2 separate regions of the Homo sapiens genome follow, and region 1 is linked to region 2. The links come from fine-mapping of genetic effects on gene expression. A gene starts in region 2. The other region holds a variant in brackets. All regions are shown on one strand. Distances are between the middles of the regions.

Region 1 (2,927 bases), 100 kb after region 2:
GTCACAAAGATTTTCTATCTTTTCTCCTTATCCATGTGTGAAAAAAATATAAAACTGGACCTCTATGTAGCATGACTTTAAGGCAGACTGTACACCCAAAATCCCTTTTAGCAAAATAATAAAGTTTTTAGAAGATAATATAGAGGAATATTTTCATGACCTTGGGGTAGGGGGGATTTCTTTAAAAAAAAAAAATCATTTATGAGGCCAGGCATGGTGGCTCATGCCTGTAATCCCAGCACTTTAGGAGGCCAAGGCAGGCAGATCACCTGAGCTTGGGAGTTTGGGACTAGCATGGCCAACATGGTAAAACCTCGTCTCTACTAAAAATACAAAATATTAGCCAGGCATAGTGGTACATGACTGTAGTCTCAGCTACTTGGAAGGCTGAGGCGCCAGAATTGTTTGAACTTGGGAGTTGGAGACTGCAGTGAGCGGAGATCATACCATTGCATTCCAGCCTGGTTGACAGCGTAAGACTCTTGTCTCAAAAAAAAAAAAAAATCATTTATGAGAGCAGGAAATGCTGATAAATTTGACTTTACTAGGAACTTCGTCAGCATATCAAAAGGCATTACGAAGAACACAAAATGCAAGCCACAGAGTAAGAGGAAGTATCTGCAACATGTATAACTAGCAAAGCACTAGCATTCAGAATATACAAAGAACTCCTACATTAGAGAAACAAATTCAAATCACAATGAGATACCAGTACAAACCTTTTAGCAGTACTATAATTTACAAAATTGACAATATCACTCTAGTGGTATTCAAAGCAACTGGAACTTTCATGCATTGTTAGTGGGAGTGTAAAATGGTATCATCATTTTAGAAAACATTTAGGTAATGTATTATCAATTGCTGCATAATAAGTTATATATATTTAGCAGCTTAAAACAACACACATTTATTATCTCACAGTTTGTATGTGTCAGGAATCTAGATGCAGCTTCACTGAGTCCCCTGCCTCAAGGACTCTATCAAAGCCTCAATCAAGGTGTCAGTCACACTTGGGGTCTCACCTGAAGCTCAAACAGGGAAGGATCCTCTTTCAAGGTCATGTGGTTGTTGGTAGGATTCAGTTCCTTGCCTCTATCATTGAAAGCCTCAGTTCATTGCTGCCTATTGGTTGCCCTCATTTTCTTGCCACTGGACTGTGCCATGTGGCAGCTTAATTCATCAGAGCCAAGAAGGATGAGAAGAAAGTCTACTAGCAAGAGAGAAGTTACAAACTTATGTAATGCAGCCATGGGAGTGACACCCCATCACCTTTGATGTATTTTATTGGTTAGAAGCAAGTTACAGGTTCCACCCAGACTCAAGACAAAGGTATTACACAAGGATACACATACCAGGAGGCTAAGATAATTTGGGGCTATTTTAGAGTCTGTCCACCACAGGTAGCAATCTTATAAAGTTATGTGTTATCTGGTTATGTGTTACCATTTACCATATGATCCCACATCTAGGCATTTATTCAAGAGAAATGAAAATATATGTTCATACAAAGATCTATACATGGATGTTTATAACAACTTTATTAAAAATTGCCCCAAACTGGAAATAACCCAAATATTCATAATCTGATGAACAGATAGTTAAATCAT[A/G]GCATAGCCATACAATGGAACACTATTTTGCAATAAGAAGGAGGTACTGATACATGTAACAACATAGATGAATCTCCAAAGTCTTATGCTTAGTGAAAAAAGCCAGACACAAAAGGCTACATACTATATAATTCTGTTTATATTATATCCTATAAAAGGCATAGCTACGGGGAAAGAACACAGATTAAGATTAGTCATTGCCTAGGCTGGGGATTGGAAGGGCATTAACAACAAAGGAGGGAACATTATGGTGGTAATGGAAACAATTTAGTATTTATTTTTATATTTACTGGTGATTACACAGTAAAATATGTGTGATTACACACACACATATTTGTCAAAACTCATAGAACTGTGTACCTGAAAAGGATGATTTTTTTCTGTATGTTGATTATACCTAAATAAATATGACTTAAGCAAGTAAAAACATTAGTACTCAAGGATTTTTGTTGTTGTTGTTAAAGACAATAGAGTTTGAAGTTTGGCTAATGGATATATTCTATTTTGCTAATGAATTTTTGAAAATTAAAATATATTCATCTTTTTTCTGAATGTTGTTTTCCCCTCTATGGCAAAAATGCCTTCTCAATTTATTGACCATGTATTGAACTCATGGAATATTCGCCTCTCATTTGCCTTGTAATTTTGAGTATTAAATACAAATTCATAAATGCCTAAGACTTAAAACCATCATTATTTACATATAAAGGCTAATGATAATAATTATTCTCACTTCCTGGACAAAACAAGAACTTTAAAAGATTTTTAACTTCATTTACCCTCTCCTAATCTAAATGCTAATGTTGTGCATTTTATTTCTATATAGTTTTTTTCAAGTTACACAGTTATTGTTTCATACTATATGTATTCATTTAGATTTGCCTATGTACAGTTTCAATATTTTTAAAATGTTCATGTCTTTTTTGTATCAGATCTTCTGTCTAGGACCATTTTCCTTCTAATTGAAGTACATTCTTTAATCAGTCTACAAGTGGCAAACTCTGTTTTTGTTCATTTAAAAATGTGTTTATTTTGCCTTTATTCTAAAATTATCCTTTTCTGGGTATAGGATTCTATGTTGGTAGTTATTTTATTAGAGCATATTGAAGATATTATTCTACTGTCCTCTGGCTTCCATTGTTTGTGTTGCATAACCAATTGACTATCTAAAAGCTATTTCTTTGAAGGTAACAAGTCTGCTTTCTATGCCTACTTTGGCCTCAGTTTTCTGCATCCTCACTATGATATGTATACTTCTTTTGTTTTCTTTTTTGTAAAATTTTTCTTTTTTTGAAGATACAATCTTGCTCTGTTGCCCAG
Region 2 (2,927 bases):
AATATCCACATTTCAAAACAGAATCTAAAACTCCCTAAAACAGGGTTGGGCTCGGCGGCTCACGCTTGTAATCCCAACCCTTTGGGAGGCTGACACTGGAGATCAGTCTGAGCAACAAAGTCAGATCTCTTTTCTACTAAAACAAAATACAACTCTCTAAAACTAATACAAAATTTTGTGTGTATGTGTCATATTCTGGAGAAAAGCTCCAAGGTTTTCCTCTGGGTCTTAAACAGGACTAAGACCCCCCACCCCCAAAAGAATCTCTGTTCTAGAGGCTAAGCATATAGAAGCTCATACTGCATTATCAAACTGGAAAGTTAATAGAGGATTTTCATGGTCATATACAGGAGAGGTGGGGAAAGCTGTCTATTTAGACTGTAAACTCCTAAAATGTTCATAAATCTCAATGGAAATTAAATCCACCGGGGTGGGAGAAGTATCACAATAGACAAAGAAGCTAAAGGTTAATGAAGAGAAGGTTTTAATCAGTGGTTACTTTTGTGCTTGGGATCAATCCTCAGTTTGTCCTCCAACGTAACTTTTGGCATTATTCATTTCAAAGTCTGAACAGTATCCATAAACCCAATACGAAACCTATGGATCCAGAGGGTCCGACCGAAAACAAAACAATTATGTTTCCGATGTGAACGCATCAATAGCTTACTTTTGTAGCGCTTTATAAAACGCTGTCACTTGCTGCTTTCCACGTCATGATATTCCCGGTCGGGAAGAGTAGGACAGCAGCATCTTTTATGAATAAGGAATTTTTTGGATTCAATTTGTGAGGTGTGGGACGCTCACCAGGTTGCGCGAAAACCATTTTTCTACATCGTCAAGTGCACGCACCCCGTGTCTCATAGTATTAGTGATGAAGACGAGGATGAAACTACCAAAGACATCAGTGGGGAGTGAATTATACTTGGGGGAGGTGTAAGCACGTCGAAATAAGGAAGCTGAGAGACATTTTGTGAAAGAGGGAAGGTAGCGTTAAGAGGAGCCTTCCATCAGGGGCAACAGAACGGGGGCAGGCGTGGCGTCTCTGGGACTGCCGGAAAACGACGTGAGGGAAAAACTCAGAGGCTACGAAAAGGCGAACAGACGGAGGGCCTGCCTCAGGGGAGCTAAGCAGCTCGCCTGAAGCCCCCCATCTGGAAATGACGTGTTTAACTCGGCGCCCCTGCAGCTCCGGCCGCCCTTTTTTGTTTAACTCCGCGCCCCTCCAGCTCCGGCCGCCCTTTTCGTCGCTCTCCCCTCGCGGTCGCTCACCCCTGAGATCCCTGGTTCCACTGAGACGCTCAGCTTCATTCGGCAACTCGCGGACACCAAGCGCCACAAATTCAAATACGAGATCTAGAGACGCTGGGTCTCAAACGTCTCCCAGAGTGAAAGACAGAGGAACCAATCGAGGCTCGGCTGACCTCAGACGTCTAAGGCGATAGGCGTTGCTAAGAAAAGGGGGTGGGACGATACCCAGTTGCCAAGACGACGGCTTCCGGGTGGGCGGCTTGAGGTGGCTTCCGGCCGCCAGGCGAGACTCCGCGGGAAAACTCCCTGCTAGAGAGACTAGGAGATTTGGGGCTGCGGCCGTTTCCTCCGGAGCACCCACGGGACTGTGTGCTGGGGTCCCTCCACCGGCTGTGTCCTTTATTCTTCTTTCTCACCCAACGATTTACCTGAACGGTTATAAAGTGCACGTTATTTCCCTAAGGTAAGCGTGTGGTAGCGCCTCCTCCTCCTCCAACAGGGGGGTAACAGAAACCTGCTGTCAACTTTGTTACCCAACATAACTGTACTTAACCACAAAAAGTTGAAATTTTGGATCTTTAAACATTCAATAACCTCTTGCTGTGTGAGGTTTTTTAACTGCACTACATACATTTTGTAGTCTTTAACCATTGAATGCGATTTAAGTTTACAATGAAATTTAACGTTCTGGTTGTTTCTGACCCCAAATTTCATCTGAACCAGTTAATGGACGAAGAACTGAAATTTTATTTTCTGTGACAGTCTCATAGGTTCTCAGACTTAAGTTCTTAATCGCCCATAAATCTGAAGGCAGGTGTTAAAGATGAGCAGGTGATTTGAGCCCAGTCCATGCCAACACTCAAACTAATTCAGCTGAGACTCCTTTCGTTAGGAGCATTATTTTAATTTTAAAAATTTTAAACCGAATGGTAAGCATGGCTGCTTTAGTTTCAGTTGTGTCTCATTTGATGATGATAGTCCCACACAAGACGATCTCATTTGTCAATGAAAGTAAACATTAGTGACCACACAGCTTTCTGCAGATAACTCTTTAAACGAACATCTTTTATCAGACCACAGAAATCATTGTTATTGTCACTAAAATGTAAAAACTAAAGCAAAACTTATCTGCTTATCAACAATTTCTTCCTCCATAGCTAAGGTAGGGAAGCATTTATGAAAGCTTAGATCTATATGTGTTTGGGATCCTGCCAACCCCTTTCTTAAAATTCCATCTTCAAAACTCCCTGCTAATGAGCACTTTTCCAACAGCTTGGATGAAACATTCTGAATAATTCGTCAGCCTGAAGGTTAGAAATTTCATTAAATAAAAAATTAAATACACAGAATACTTAAGTATGAAACATTAATGAACTGAGTAATACATTCTTAAGAAGAGGAGGCACTTAGGAAAACACAGGCCACCTGCATTGTGGAGCCATTTAATGTGATGAGATTTGATAAATGGGTAAGAGATCAAAAAATGCCCAGGGTTTCAAAAGAGAATGTTCCATGAGCAGCTTACTGCCTACATAGACCATTTGAAAATCAAACCAACTCAGCAGAAGCCCAAGAGGCCTTCAGATGAACCCGAGTATCCTTTGGATGTCAGTGTTGTACTGAACAAAGTCAGTTGAACTGTTATTTATCTGACAAGAAAAAAAAATGCCTAAATTTTG

Alleles and levels. Positions count from the first base shown, and alleles are read on the strand shown. Sizes are in standard deviations (SD) of each study's normalised expression.
With allele G in place of A in region 1, the expression in prefrontal cortex of the gene that starts at base 1,348 in region 2 is higher (large effect, 2.1 SD a copy in CommonMind).

What was found. PIP is the estimated chance that this variant, and not a neighbour inherited with it, causes the effect.
Region 1: its variant is the best candidate, but not a certain one, in a credible set for the expression of LINC01572 in prefrontal cortex (CommonMind, PIP 0.79).

What each region holds. Positions count from the first base shown.
Region 1 is chr16:72,768,261-72,771,187 of GRCh38, forward strand. The region is part of intron 3 of ZFHX3-AS1 (ZFHX3 antisense RNA 1); the gene reads left to right. Among named protein-coding and RNA genes, the nearest start is that of ZFHX3-AS1, 100 kb to the left of the region's middle. RefSeq lists an enhancer at 2,472-2,927. The variant A/G (reference allele first, on the strand shown) is at 1,608.
Region 2 is chr16:72,663,623-72,666,549 of GRCh38, forward strand. It overlaps LINC01572 (long intergenic non-protein coding RNA 1572), which reads right to left and starts at 1,348. Exons shown (of 14, transcript NR_126330.2): 1 at 1,270-1,348. ZFHX3-AS1 (ZFHX3 antisense RNA 1) reads left to right here and starts at 1,511. Exons shown (of 4, transcript NR_171704.1): 1 at 1,511-1,711. RefSeq lists enhancers at 1,090-1,209, 1,250-1,309.